Homo sapiens: one gene and its partners. The protein of the gene in region 3 purifies or fractionates together with the protein of the main gene of each other region. This does not show direct contact. Each region holds a gene or a part of one and is shown on either strand. Other genes may lie near its edges.

What was found. The genes of interacting proteins can lie anywhere in the genome.
Region 1: the proteins of GPR88 (region 3) and CNNM1 purify together in Homo sapiens (affinity purification with mass spectrometry; one large-scale study listed by BioGRID and IntAct). This does not show direct contact.
Region 2: the proteins of GPR88 (region 3) and MFSD8 purify together in Homo sapiens (affinity purification with mass spectrometry; one large-scale study listed by BioGRID and IntAct). This does not show direct contact.
Region 4: the proteins of GPR88 (region 3) and SLC39A10 purify together in Homo sapiens (affinity purification with mass spectrometry; one large-scale study listed by BioGRID and IntAct). This does not show direct contact.

The regions. Positions count from the first base shown.
Region 1 is NC_000010.11:99,381,104-99,384,855, reverse strand, and holds part of CNNM1 (metal transporter CNNM1), read right to left. Parts: intron 1-3,752. UniProt on the Homo sapiens protein: Probable metal transporter.
Region 2 is NC_000004.12:127,917,305-127,920,425, forward strand, and holds the end of MFSD8 (major facilitator superfamily domain-containing protein 8), read right to left. Parts: 3' UTR 501-3,121; downstream 1-500. UniProt on the Homo sapiens protein: Outward-rectifying chloride channel involved in endolysosomal chloride homeostasis, membrane fusion and function. Conducts chloride currents up to hundreds of picoamperes.
Region 3 is NC_000001.11:100,536,607-100,541,232, reverse strand, and holds the start of GPR88 (G protein-coupled receptor 88), read right to left. Parts: upstream 3,095-4,626; 5' UTR 2,731-3,094; intron 2,340-2,730; 5' UTR 2,267-2,339; coding exon 1,112-2,266; 3' UTR 1-1,111. UniProt on the Homo sapiens protein: Orphan G protein-coupled receptor implicated in a large repertoire of behavioral responses that engage motor activities, spatial learning, and emotional processing. May play a role in the regulation of cognitive and motor function.
Region 4 is NC_000002.12:195,733,474-195,737,225, reverse strand, and holds part of SLC39A10 (zinc transporter ZIP10 precursor), read right to left. Parts: intron 2,344-3,752; coding exon 2,185-2,343; 3' UTR 1-2,184. UniProt on the Homo sapiens protein: Zinc-influx transporter. When associated with SLC39A6, the heterodimer formed by SLC39A10 and SLC39A6 mediates cellular zinc uptake to trigger cells to undergo epithelial-to-mesenchymal transition (EMT).

The sequences.
Region 1 (3,752 bases), on a different chromosome or scaffold from region 3:
ACCTCAGGTGACATCACCCTCCTCAGCCTCCCAAAGTGCTGGGATTACAGGTGTTAGCCACTGCACCCGGCCTCTTTTTGTTTTTAAAAAACAATGATAAGCCCCTCTTGTTACCTGGAATCAAGGATCCAGGAACTCTAACCCTCTTTTTAAGCATTGTCAGGGAGGAAAGGACGGGAAGAAAGTATTTTTGGTAACAATACTGAGTGAATGGGACACACTTCCTCGTGAGGTACCGAGTTCCTCATCATTGGAGGCATTCACACAGATGTTAAGCCACCACTTGTCAGTGATGCTAAAGAGAAGATTCAGACGGCCACACTAGTGGGAAGAAGCACGGCAGTGTATGGCAGTGAGGGTGGGGAGGGGGAGGGGCTGGAGAGGGTCTGCACTGTTGGTGGGTGTTTATATAAAAGGAAAGGTACCACCCAATGGCTAAATCCTCTATGTGACTCACAGCCTTAACAGCCTTGCTTTCTTTCACACAGCTCTCTTTTTAAAAAAAATTTTTTTTTAAATCATGAACTCCTGCCATGTCAATGTGTTGCCTTAAAAGAAATTGTTGACAAGGTGCCAATGTATCCAGGGAAGCAACTCTGCTCTGCCTCTCCCAGAGGCATTTCTAGGTTCGGGTATCACTTCTTGTCAGTTCCTTCCCCTTGTTCAACAACTCATGACAACTTATTTTAATCTAGCGTAATACTGTTGAAGAGAAATGTAACGTGAGTCCCGTCGGTAATTCAAAGTTTTCTAGTAGTCACATTTTAAAAAGTAAAAACAAGTTAATTTTAATAACATATTTCATTTAACCCAATATATCCAAAATAATTTCACATCATCATGTGATTAGTTAAAGTGATTAGTGAGGAATTTTACATTCTTTTTCGCACTGGTCTTGAAATACAATGTGTATTTTGCACTTATAGCACATCAGTTGGAAAGAGACACACTTCATGCATTCAACAGCCACATGTAACTAAATGGCTGTATTTATACATGGCTACTGGCTGCTGTACTGGATGGTGAAGGTTTAGTGGACGGCCTAAACAGCTGTGCCCAGTTTCGATGACCTGGCCTCGCAGGGCCAACAGCACTCCCACTACTCACCAGGACAGAACCACTGGTCCCACCCAGCTTCTCTCTCTACCCAGTCCCTCGAATGCGCCATGTCTACTTGCCTTCCATACCTGTTTAAGGGTGTCCCTTTGCATGGCATTGCCTTAATTCTCCTCTTGTTCTTTCCAAACTCCTAAAGTACATTCTCCAGCCAATTAGTGCTTAAAAAATTCCAGATAGTGGCTCACACCTGTAATCCCAGCACTTTGGGAGGCCGAGGCGGGCGGATCACAAGGTCAGGAGTTCGAGATCAGCCTGACCAACATGGTGAAACCTTGTCTCTACTAAAAATACAAAAATTAGCCAGGCGTGGTGGCGCATGCCTGTAATCCTGACTACTCAGGAGGCTGAGGCAGGAGAATCGCTTGAACTCAGGAGGCGGAGGTTGCAGTGAGTTCACTGAGTTGAACTCAGTGAGGTAGAAGATCACGCCACTGCACTCCAGCCTGGGGGACAGAGTGAGACTCCGTCAAAAAACAAAAAAAAATTCCACATAATTTTGTAATGAATTAGATAGTACCCTGCATTGGTCACTATTATTTAACTTACCTTAAGCTTCCTCTCTCTAACTGGTCTTAATCTACTTATAAGGCAGAGGATATATTTTTATTAGATTTATATTTCTGTAGTATAGCTCATGGCACCCAGAACCATTGTTAATGCTTAACAAATACTTATCAATTAGTTGACTGAGGGAATCAAGCCACTTTTCAACAGACTCCATGTTTTTGTTTCCTCTTCATTGCAGTAGATATAACCATTTATTAGCAACAGCTTTAGTTCAAATTGTCTTCTCTTATAGAGTGGCCAGTTTAGAATCCAATCACCCACTAAGCTACAAAGGAAGCGGAGGTCTGTTTATTCTGAAAGTAGTGAAAAGCAAGGGTGGCTTTCTGGACTTTTTGACTTAGCAGCCAAGGTGTCCAGAAGTTAACCTTTAGGCTAATGTGATGTCTCCTGTCATTTTATTTTAGAGACAGGGTCTCACTCTGCTGTGCAGGCTGGAGTGCAGTGGCATGATCACAGCTCACTGTAACCTTGAACTCCTGGGTTTAAGCAATCTTCCTGCCTCAGCCTCCCAAGTAGCTGGGACTACAAGTGCATGCCACCATGCCTGGCTAATTTAAAAATTTATTTTTATAGAGATGGGGGTCTCACTTTGTTGCCCAGGCTGGTCTCACACTCCTGGCCTCAAGTGATTCTCCTGTCTCAGCCTCCCAAAGTGGTGGGATTACAGGTGTGAGCCACTGCACCTGGCCTCCTATCATGGTATGATGTTGTTTTCACTTTCAAGTGGTTTATTCATCCCTGAAGACACAATGCTGCAATCTAGGGTGATGAGGAATCTTGGTCAAGGTTACGTAGTCCAGACTGTAAGACATCTGCCAAGTAGTCTTAGCTTAATGATGACACAGAACACATTTCAAAAAACTTACTTCATAAGAATTCTTTGGTACCTTCATAACTTATTAACTACCATTAATCATGGCTTTGTTTAACACCTTTCCCAGATAACTATTAGATGCACCTTTCTATCTCATTTTGTAACTTATCTTGAAGTTCAATTACTCCTGGACTTAATTCTGGACCTTCAGTCTGTTGGATATAAAAAGCCCTTGAGAAACCTTCCAGCAGCCAACCACAGGGGCTTCGCCCTGTGAAAACACTCATCTTGCAGTCTTCTCTTTAGCTTCCCCCAAAACCCTCATGTTAAAAAACACAATAACAACAGAAGGAAAGATGGGGAGAGACAGGTGAGGGAAGTAGATAAATGAGTGGCCTAAATAACGTCCCTAACACAGTCTAATCAATCAGGAGGAGGTAATTTTCAAAGTTAATCTAAGGCAGAATCTTATATTAAAAAAAAAAGAAAAGAGAAAATCAAAACAAAAAAGACACTTGTGTTAAAAAAAAGAGCTTGAACTCACAGAATTCCTTTTTGGAGAACTACCCATTTTAATCAAAGTTTTTTTTTTGTTTTTTGGTTTTTTTTTTTGAGACGGAGTTTCGCTCTTGTCGCCCAGGCTGGAGTGCAGTGGCGCCGATCTCGGCTCACCGCAACCTCCGCCTCCTGGGTTCAAGCAATTCTCCTGCCTCAGCCTCCCGAGTAGCTGGGATTACAGGTGCCTGCCACCATGACTGGGTAATTTTTTTATTTTTAGTAGAGATGGGGTTTCGCCATGTTGGCCAGAGTGGTCTTGAACTCCTGACCTCAAGTGATCTGCCTGCCTCAGCCTCCCAAAGTGCTGGGATTACAGGTGTGAGCCACCGCGCCTGGCCTAAAGAGGTTTTTGAATAACACTCTTTTTTTTCCTTTTTTTTTTTTTTTTGAAGACAGAGTCTCACTCTTGCCGCTCAGGTGGAGTGCAATGGCCTCGGCTCACTACAACCTCCGTGTCCTGGGTTGAAGCGATTCTCCTGCCTCAGCCTCCTGAATAGCTGGGATTACAGATGCCCACCACCATGCCTGGCTAATTTTTCTTGTATTTTTAGTAGAGACAGGGTTTCACCACGTTGGCCAGGCTGGTCTGAAACTCCTGACCTCAGGTGATCTGCCCACCTCAGCCTCCCAAAGTGCTGGGATTACAGGCGTGAGCTGCTGCACCTGGTTGAATAACACTTAATTGGTTTCCACC
Region 2 (3,121 bases), on a different chromosome or scaffold from region 3:
GCATTGTCCCTTTATAGACTCAGCTAAAATTAGGCTTCTTCTCAACCACTATACTCCACCCAACTTGGACCTATTTTTAGTTCTGTGAAAGCTCCAAGATCTTCCCACCTCCAGGGCTTTGTACACACTGCCTTCTGCCTGAAAAGTACTTGTCCCACTCTTCACCAATCCAAATTTTCTCTTCCACTAGGTCTTGGCTAATCATTTCTTCTGGAGAAACATGCCTGACTCTCCTGTTCAGGTCAGGTTCCCTGTTAATCATATTCACCCTCATAGCTCCCTATGCTTCTCTCTCATCACCCCTCCCTCAATCATAATCATCTGTGAAATCATCTTGTGAATATCTGACTTTCTTGCTGGTACATAAGCCTCATGAAGGTCGGAGCTCTGTGTGTTTTGTTTACCGCACAATCCCCCAAATGACATTGTAATTGGCACATAGTGGGTACCCCCTTAAATATGTACTGAAAGACGACTGAATAAAGTTTTAAAGCTTAAGGTACATATGCAAAATAATCTTGTTTATTAGAAAATGAACATTCACAATGTAAAGTAGAAATTAAATTACAAATAAGTCTTCAATGGTCAAAAATGGTGCCCAGAATTTCTTCTCAAAATAAGTTAATCTATTCTTAAACAGATGCAGGTAAGTAGTTTATCCTTGTCAAAACAAAAAATTAACAGATTTCACTTTATGTAAGAGATAAGGTTTATATGAACAAGAAGAGTTTATTTTTAAATGTAAAGCTGAACAAGATAGAATGGAGATGCTTTGTGAAGTTATAAATCCCTTCAAAATATGAAAATCATCCTTTCAAGTTTAAATTTGTTTTCAAAAACATATTTTCTCTTCTTAAATATGTACTACTCTTAACAATATATCATACCTTAAAATCTCCTGTTGTCATTTTCTCTTTATACGCAACTTGGCCTACTCAAGAAGACATCAACATGGTGATTTTTTTTCCTCAAACTTTATCTCCTTGCTCTTTTCCCAATCCCATGTTACTTCCTTTCGCCTTCTTTTGTGCCAAGATGAGCAAGGTATAATCCTCCAAAGAAGAAAATGCTCCAAAGAAAATGCTCTCAATAAAAAGGAAAGTAAGAGTCATTTGTGTAAGGTTAAGTTTATCTAAATTTTAATCAATATTATAAACCTTTGAAAGCTGGGAAACTTTTTTCTGTTATATTCTTGCTGGAAACAGGTTATTATGCTAAGACAAAAGCTCCAGTCAGTGGGCTTATGTTGCCCAAATATTTCTGCTAGTAGGACTCACTGGTATAGTTAAATTACCCTACAATTAGTGATTAATTGAAACTGCAACTTTCTGGGATATTTTCCTCACTATGAAAAATCAAGTGGTTAAGACTGTGGACTTTAAGGATAGACTGTTACTTAGACAAGTAACTTTTCTGTGCCTCCATTCTTTCATCTGTAAAACGGGAATCATAATAGTATTTTCACTCCATAAGACTGCTGTAAGAATTAAATTGTATGTTACACATTACCTGGAATGTGGAAAGCACTCCACAAATTTTGCTCTTATCATTTTCATCATTACCATTATTCTTGTTATTTTTGTCATGCACACTATGCAAACCAAGGGTAGAGTTTACTCTTTAAGATTAGACGTGGCCCAAAAAATGTAAGACAGAGAAAGCAGCTGCAGAATAGCAGGTAAGAGGGATCCCAGACTTGACCAAATAGCCAGAACTGGCTACGGTTCTGAGAAATCTATGGAAGCAGTCTTGCTATGGGCGGCAGAGGAGAGTGAAAACAGTCTTCAAAATTTAATCGTAGAATAATTCTATCAAATTAAGCCCTTTATTAGAGCTGAAAAAATTGAGTTTAAGAGCACAGCTAGTTTAGCATAAAGTGCAGATTATACAGTTTTAAATTTTTGTTTTTATTTTTTGTAAAGACAGGGTCTCACTTTGTTTCCCAGGCTGGTCTTGAATTCCTGGCCTCAAGCAATCCTCCTGCCTTGGCCTTCCAAAGTGCTGGGATTACAGGCATGAGACACTGCACCCAACCTATAAAGTGCAGATTATATAGTGTTTATTCTCAGATTTGAAACTATTTCTAACTTAAAGTAGAAAACATTTGGAAAAGTGTTTAGAAATATTTTTGCATTTTCTTAACAGTGCTTATCAATATACATAGTTATCTACTAGTTCCTTTTATCAGCATTCAACTTATGTAGAGGTAGAAGTTAAACATACAGTGTTATTTAGCCAACTTCAGGTAAACTCAGTAAATTGTTAGATTAAAGCCATTTTGCCTCAAATACTTATTAGCCTGACTAGTTTGGGGCTGTCAGGGATCATCCAAATTAAAAATCCAACTAAAATTCTGCAGCTCTACACAACTATGCAGACATAGATTGAAAACTGTTGTGTTCCTCCCCGCCACTACTGAGAGATGGGAAAAATTAAAGTAAATTAATTAATGTTTTACTAATTAAATGTTTTTCTCCAGTTTAAGGGGGTTGAAAAATAGCAATAATTTTAAGAAACCATTTACTGTTTTGTATATATATATATAAAATAACACATATCTGGATTATGTTTCTAATGTGAATTTTTGGCATTTGAAAGAAAGTAGGTATCCCTATTAGGCTAATAGGCAGTGAAGTATCTTGATCTCTTAATCCTCTGTATTGCTCAAATATTAGCATTATCCATACTCATTTATTAATGTAGGGGTTACTTAGTGAAACCCTGAACTAAAATAAGGCAGAGGTGTAGTATTAGAAGAAAGACTCATAGAAGGCAAGGTAGGATGTTAGGCACGCTAAATGGAAAATATGTGTTATAATTTTTATTTCATAAGTGAACTTGATAATAGAAAATGCATTTTTTTATAAATAAAAAGTAGGTGTCTGAATAAAAATACCTCTACTTGGGTAGAGGTATTTAAAATTCTATAATTTTGTTCTGCTATGGCTAATTCTTACAGAACCCTCTTTCTGGTTCCACTGTATATTATTTTAATGACACTTCTGCAGTGGGTATTAAGAATACAGCTTCACATTTATTCATCATTGTCCATTCACTCATTAGTTCATGCAACCACAAAAAGGTATTATAAGAATAATATTTCATTTCTGAGGTAAGGAAA
Region 3 (4,626 bases):
GGTGTCTGGAAGAAGTAAAATATCCTTGTCTAACGGGTATTGCTTCAGTATACCACATGCCCAATAAGTTCTAGCATCTAGGAGCATGCAATAGCAGCTAATATTAGCTATGCAGTCATGGTATTATTAGTGTTTAATTATATCATGTGCATTGAGATATTTTAAATGTTAAAGAGAAAACAGAAGGACTTATTCTTCTTAGCAACCATTATAGTACAGAATGTTCAAAGCTGCAATCACATTCATAAGGCAAATAAATTGGTTACAAAATGAGGGTAGCAACAAGTGTGCATGCTATAGAAAATGTGAAACGGTACCTAAAATAGATAATCACCTTATTTGTTTTCAAAATTCCAGTGCTGGCTCTGACCATCAATTATCAAACTGGAAAATTTTCACTATAACACTCAACGCCAATTTTCAGTCTTAAGAGTGCGAAAAAAAAGGAGCATAAAATAATTTTTTTTCTCACTGGCTAAGATTCTACCTCATTTGAGAAAGACTTTATTAAAAACCCTTTTAAGAATAAAGGGCTTGAGGTCTTAATGGCAACTCATACTGGTGGGCACACCTAGGGCTTCACTGCCCCAGGGTAATATACAAAAACTAAATGGTAAGAGAAGCATCATCAAAGACAGGTTACTTTCTAAAATACTTTCTACATATTGTTTTCCTTCTTCAATGTTATTTCCTTTGGTTCATGCACACTCAAGGCGCTTCATATATAAGACGATGAAAGTGGAAAGGGTTATACATTATGAAAGCTCTTTTTCAAAAACAAACTGTGTGGAAATAAATTAACCGGTTATTTTAAAACGCCAGTTTGCAAGTTCTTCAAGTCTCTGGTGTTTTGACTTTAGGATTCCTCTAAAACACAGAAACAAAGGGTAAAAATCAGGTGGCCGTCCAAAATGACTTCGGGCGCCCCACTTAAAGAGACGCCTTGGTTCAGGTAGCCCGCTGGGGTCGAAGGCCCCATTTTCCCCCGATCTATCGGGCTTCGCGGCGGAAGTCTTCGTTCAGGCAGGGGATGCCCTAGGAGGGAAGGAGGCGACGGTGCCCAAGGACGTCGGAAGCCGGGGATCTCCGCTTCCCTCGGGCCCCGGCTAGGTTACCAGTGCTGGCCCGCGGCGCGGGTGCCCAGTTGCGCCTGGGACACTGCGGGCACGGCTGTGGCGGCAACGGCAGCGGCCGCCGCGTCGCCGACGCCCGGCAGGACTGAGCGCACGGAGCGGCGGAACTCCTCGTTCCTCCACGTGTAGAGCAGCGGATTGAGCGCGGACAGGGCGCAGCACAGGAGCCAGCTGGCCGCCTGCACTCCCCAGGGCACCGGCAGCGAGAAGCCGCTGGCCAGGCTCACCCACACCAGTGGCTGCGTGGCCAGCAGGAAGACGCAGCAGAGCAGCAGCACCGACAGGCCGCTGAGACGCCGCTGTGCCCGCCGCGGGTGCAGCGCGGGCGGCAGGGGCTGGGCCTGCGCCGGGTGCGCGGCGCCACCGGGGCCCGGCGCGTGCTGGGCGCCCGGGAAGGCGGCGGCGGCGGCGGCGCAGCCGGGCAACTGGTGCAGCAGGTGGAAGTTGAGCACGCTGACCCGCTTGACGCTGACACGCACGCGGCGCACGATGCCCAGGTAGCAGTGCAGCAGCAGAGCTGTCTGCGCCAGCAGCGCCGCGGCGGCCAGCAGCGCCGGGTAGTGGACTCGCGGTGGCGCGGCGCCGGGCCGCGGTGCCCAGGGCGGGAGCAGCAGCACGAGGCCCAGGGCGAGCGCCCAGGACAGCGCCAGCATGCCCGCCGTGTGGCGCCTCTGGTACAGCGCCTGGTAGGTGGCGGGCGCCCGGGTGATGAGCAGGTAGCGGTTCAGGGCCACGAGGCAGTGGGAGAGGAGGGACACCGTGAGTCCGAGGCCCAGCAGCCCACCCCGTAGCAGGCGGTAGCTGCCCCCAGCGCCGTCCCAGTCTGCGGGGGGCTCCGCAGAGCCGGTGGGCAGGAGCCCGAGCACCGCCTCCTGCGGCATCCAGAGGGCGCAGACGCTGAGGTCGGCGGCGCAGCCGTTCACGATGAAGGCGTTGCTGGTGGTCTGCAGCTTTCGGAAGGACGACACGAGATAGATGACCATGCCGTTGGCCAGCGTGCCCCCGATGGCCAGGCCCGAATACAGGAGTGACACCGGGATGCGCCGGCCCGCCCACGACTCCTCTTCCTCGCAGAGCAGCAGCAGCGAGCCACCGGTGGTGGAGGAGGTGGATGTGGAGGAGGAGTTGGTCATTCTGGCCAACTCTTCACACCTCCCTCGCTAGCGTCGGCTTCTGGCAGCGCGGTCCATCCTGACACTGTCCTGCCTGCCAGAAGGGCAAAGACATCCCTTCAGCCCTCTGCCACTGACACAAAAGGCTGAAGCAGAATAATGGGCTGGGGGAGGGGGAGAAAGGGAGCTCGAGGAGGAGGACGGGGGTGGCAGATGACAGGTGCCTGCCTCGGAAATGTCTCCAGAGCCAGGGGAAAGGCCACTTTGCATTGGATTCAGCAGGTATCGGGGAAGCCCTAGGACAGAGCAATACCTAAAACAGTCTCCTCTTCTCCCCCAACACACACACACACACACAGAGAGAGAGAGAGAGAGAGAGAGAGAGAGAGAGAGAGAGATATGTTGCCAGCTGGAGGACCTAGTTCCAGGAGAAAGCAGAGATATCCCAGCTGGGGAAAATCCCATGGGAAAGAGGTGAAGGTTACCTTGCGTTTAGGCTGGTCCTTAGCCGGTGTCTCAGGGGGAGGGATGCCGGGAAATACCTCCTCAGCAACAGCATCAGTGGTCCAGAAATCAACAGGAGAAACTCAGCTGGGATCAGTGCCAGGAGCAAGTGCCCGCTTCTCCCAAGCAGCATCCACACACATGGTCCTGGGCAGGAACTAGCAGCTGCAGGGAGACTTCTCAGCTGGTATCAGGGCTGGAGAAAGTAAAGTGGCGGGCTGCAAGCCCAGGCGGGTGGGCAGGCAGGCAGCAGCAGCAAGAATGCTTGGCTGCAAAAGCAGAAGCTGAGCTCAAGAGGAGAGCACCCTGTGCTCAGAAGCAGGAGTGGTGGCTGATGTGGTGAACCCACTCGAAGCTCTCTCCTGCTTAGTTATACATCATCCAGGGAAAAGACAGCCTTTCCACGCTTGGCATGAATTATTCAATAGCTTCCAACTTGTAAAAGGAAGAAAAATATCTTGCTCAGAAAGTCCTGTCGTTAACAAGTTTCTCTGTCTTTTCTCTCTCCCAATCACCTTATTTTTCATCCTGTTTCATTTTTCTTTCCGTCCTTTTTTTCCCTCCCTTCAATATTAGAATAAAATTTAATATACCCTAGAGTATTTCATCTCAGTCTGATGCATTTTGTGGGCAAGATTTTTCTGTGAGATAAATATATTCCCAGTACCCAGGACTGATCTCTTTATTCCCACATTTTTTAACGAGAATTACTTTATGCACTACTTGAAATTCATTTTTCTTTGGTAAAGTGGAACATAGACAATTATCCACAGAAAATCTCCATTCCTCAATTTAAATCGTACTTTCAGTGTTTTCTCATCAACAAACTCCTTTCCGGAGTTTGTTTTGTGTTTTAGTAATGAAATGGTTAGAGGGTAAAAATGAAATGGGCAAAAGATTTAAAGCAGATGTCAGTGGTACATCTAGACAATGGAATATTATTCAGTGCTAAAAAGAAATGAGCTGTCCAGCCATGAAAAGACATGAAGGAACCTTAAGTGTGTATCACTAAGTGACAGAAGCCAACTGGAAAGGACTACATACTGTATGCTACCAACTATGACATTCTTGAGAAGGCAAAACTATGGAGACAGTTAAAAAGACCAGTGGTTGCCCGAGTTAGGGGGAAAGGAGGAATGAATAGATGATCACGGAAGATTCTTAGGACAGTGGAACTACTCTGTATGATACCATAATAGTGGATCTGTGTACTTATAAATTTGCCCAAAGTGGCAGAATGTGAAACATCAGTGTAAGCCATGGACTTTGGGGAATGATGTGTCAACGTACATTCAATTGTAACAGACGAACCACTCTGGTGGGGGATTTTGATAATGGGAGAGGCTATGTATGCGAGGGGCAGGGAGTACATGGGAAATCTCTGTATCTTTCACTCAAATTTGCCATGAATCTAAAATTGCTCTAAAAAAATAAAGTCAATTTTAAAAAAATGTGTGTCAGGGGGAAAGCAAGAAACCTGAATAATCCACAGTGTGAACAAAGATGACTTTTCACTTCAGAACTTTTTGTCTTGTCTGTCTTGGAGATTTGCAGTCTGATGTTGGCATCTTCTTTGGTGCAAGTGTTCATTTATCCATTCCATGTGGGAATTTTTTCAGAAAAGGAGTTCTCTCAATTATTCACTGGAAAAGTCATGTATTTGAAAATGTAACTCAATATGGGAATATGGTAACATGGCATAATAGAAAAAAATGTTAGGTGGGGTTGCAGCACACCCAGATACTAAGCCGAGCATCCATCATGTAGCCTTGCGATGGATTATTTTCATCTTGTCAAATAAGTTCACAGTCAGTCACTTCAAAGGCCCTTTCTGTTAAAACTTTCTGTGAATCCCTATTCATGAATTTAGCATTTCT
Region 4 (3,752 bases), on a different chromosome or scaffold from region 3:
TTGTCTATTAAGACTTGAAACTATACATTAGAATGATGTGGAACCCTAATACTAGCAGCAACTGTTACAGCCCTCTTAAAAGATTTGTAAGAATCTAGCAAATAAAGAAAGATAATACCATTTTTGAGAGAATATAAAACTTCTTTATATACTTCAGCATAACCTACTTGCTTTAAATCAATCAGGCATTTATTTTAAAACTGGGAGTATATTCCAGCTATTGCTTTTATAAAGGTTCTAAAATGAAGCAGATTTAATGCTGGAATGCAGAATCCTACCGTGGGTATAAAAACCCAAAAGTGAACTATAAATATATCTTGGTTCAGAAATCTAGATAGATAGATATCTAAATCACTTGAAGTTGGCAGTACTAAATAAAATATCAGCACCTTTTAGCTAGGTTGCTTGAAGGGCCAAGCAATGAGATGAGGACTGTCCTAATTCAGTGCCCAATGCTGAAAATTAATTATATATAAAACTTCTACTTATTATAAGGAGGCCATGGAGTAAGTCAGAAATAATTTTTCAGATTCAAGCATAAATTAAAGAAATAACACCTAAGCTCCCTTGCTTATAGCATACAGAAAAGACACTGGCAATAATCTATAAATACCTGGATGCATGTGCTGCTCTCAAAGTTTTGTTTTTGTTTTGAAGTTCATAGAGTAGGAGGAAAGAAGAGTACTAAATGAAAACATTTTAGATGGAATGGAAAAGAGTTTGGCTCTTATATATTTGAACAATAAGATAGATTGTTACAGCAGCTACACTGGTTGCCAAGCAGATTAAAACAAAGCTAGCTGCACATAGTTCAAATACAGTTTACCTGGCATAAATGAAGACCATGTGGCATAGGATGTAAACAGAAAGCTACATGCATATGACTAGTAATACAAATTATTAAGTAAAAATTCAGGATAAACATGGCTTGCACTTCTCACAAATCATTCACAATTATGGTAGGAGAACAGGGCACCTAAAAGACTAATCCCTATCAGGCACCAACAGCATATCTTGGCACAAGATGATCAAGTGATTTCAGCTGAGTAATTTAAATGCATCTTCCAAGTCACTTGGGTACCATGACAGCCATGGCAATAATGGAGTTTATCCTAGTAACTGTTCTAAATTGACACTTCATGTACACATTACAGACATGGTAAACTTCGATTTTCTGCTTTACAACCTTGTAGCCAGCCACGACATGTGCTCTTGGTTCCAGTGCCAAACTGGTAAAGCAATGTGAACATTCAGAACTTACATTTCCCAATTAACTAGTTGGTACTGTTAAAATAGGAAAATCAACTATTTAAACCACGTCTGGTTCATTTCTTTGATATTTTCTAGAGGGTTACAATTTTTTAAAAAGACCACATGCTCCAAACCCTCACCTACCCCCGCCAAAAAAAAAAAAAAAAAATCAAAACAAAATTAAAGTAAAAAACAAAACAGAAAGAACACCCCAACACCAAGTATTATAATAATACAAAGAACCATTATGAATCTTTCATTAAACTGAAGCTCACACAAACATACAATCACAAATTTCAGTAGTTTAGGCTGCAGGTTTAAACACTATGCAAATATATACAAAAATAGTAACTCTAGATTCAAGAATAAGGGCTTTTCCCAATGCTAAATTCATACTCTAATGCAGCCTGAGCTTTCCTCTAGTTCCTATGTCTACTTTATGCAGTTTCAAAGTTGTGTCAAGTTGATCCCTATCACCACATGAATATATGTAGCTGAATTAAAGAGCACTACAATTCATTCTTAAAACACACAAAAAATGTCTCCCCAAAGTCCATTTAAAATATTTTTAAAGTTTAAATGATTTTTTTTGGTTCGATCTCTATTTCTGCATAGCCACAGAAGTTTCTACTAATAAAGAGACTAGTGTTTTATATGATTATTTTGTGAAAAGTCTTAATCAAACATATCAACACTGGTTCATGGAGTCCCATATTCTCCTCTCTTTATCACAAGCTTTATATTTTTAAAAGACCCCTACGTGCAGGGAAAACAGTACTAAGCACCAGCCTCTTGTGGTTAGGCTCAAATCTATGAAACTTGTAAGTAGTGCAAGCCACTGACTTTCCTTTGAGCAATGTGCATACAGTACAAGGAACAGATGCAAAGCTGCATGGTAACATTCTCGTAATCAACAGTGATTACTGGGAAAGGTCAAAACTGGATGTCAAACACAATTTTATCTTCATAGAGGGCAATCACCAGCATAATGGCAAATCCAAAGAGCAATCCTAAATTCTGAAGGATGAATTGCCCCACAGGACAAAAGCCATGTTCTTCATTGTCACCATCACCATGCAACATTTCTGGAAGCTAGAAAAATAAATCTTCACATTAAACTTTGTATAATACTTCTGCTCAAAACAGTTTTTAAAAACATTTTCCTACTTAAGAAAATTAGTGACTGAAGTGTAACTACAGACAAAATAATTATTTTATTGAACACAATGCTACCCACCAGATGTATTTTAGTCAAATACTGAAGAAATTTTATGCTTTTGCTAGGAAATACTAACTCTGTTCCCTCCTCCTCATCCCCCACAACAAACACTTAAAATATGCACATTAGTCATTTTTCAAACAGTTACTATCCACTGACCTTATAAATTCTGACATTTTACTTTATGCTAAAGCATAAAGCAACTTATTACCAATAAGACACTCCAAAAACCGATCACCACAATTCCCACATTTACTAATGTATCTTAAACTCAATAAGAAAGCAAGATTCTTGGGCCGGGCACGGTGGCTCACGCCCATAAATCCCAGCACTTTGGAAGGCCGAGGTGGGCGGATCATGGGGTCAGGAGTTCAAGACCAGCCTGGCCAATATGGTGAAACCCATAAAAATACAAAAATTAGCTGGGCGTGGTGGGGCACGCTTGTAGTCCCAGCTACTCGGGAGGCTGAGGCAGGAGAATCATTTGAACCTGGGAGGCAAAGGTTGCAGTGAGCTGAGATCACACCACTGCACTCCAGCCTGGGCAACAGAGCAAAACTCCATCTCAAAAAAACTTTTTTTTTTTTTTTTTTTTTAAAAAAAAAGGAAGATTCTTTTGGGAAATGGCCTAATTCAAAATGGTTTCACTTCTTCACTCTTTTCCACTTGAAATTCTTATTTCCCACTGCTCATGACAGCAAAGAGATACTTGGGGACAAATCCAAATTGGCATCTCTATGCCCTTATGCCATTGCTTTCATTCCAATAACAGACACAGAAAACAACCTAGCAGAGCTATCCAGCATAACTAGTACCAAGTCATGCACACTGCCCTCACAGTGTATTCTCTTAATATTGTTAAAATTTCAAAATTCTGAAAATTATCACATCTTTGAAGGCACAGTGCTTTGAAAAGTTTATATATGGCTGGGCGTTGTGGCTCATGCCTGTAATCCCAGCAGTTTTGAGAGGCCGAGGCGGGCAGATCAACTGAGGTCGGGAGTTTGAGACCAGCCTGAACAACATAGAGTAACTCCGTCTCTATTAAAAATACAAAATCAGCTGGGCATGGTGGTGCATGCCTGTAATCCCAGCTACTCAGGAGGCTGAGGCAGGAGAACTGCTTGAACCCAGGAGGCGGAGGTTGCGGTGAGCCAAGATTGCGCCACTGTACTCCGTCCTGGGCAACAAGAGCAAAACTCCGTCTCAAAAAAAAAAGAAAAGAAAAGTTTATATACTTAATTTCTAAAGCATACCACATACTATTACATCTAAGAATAAT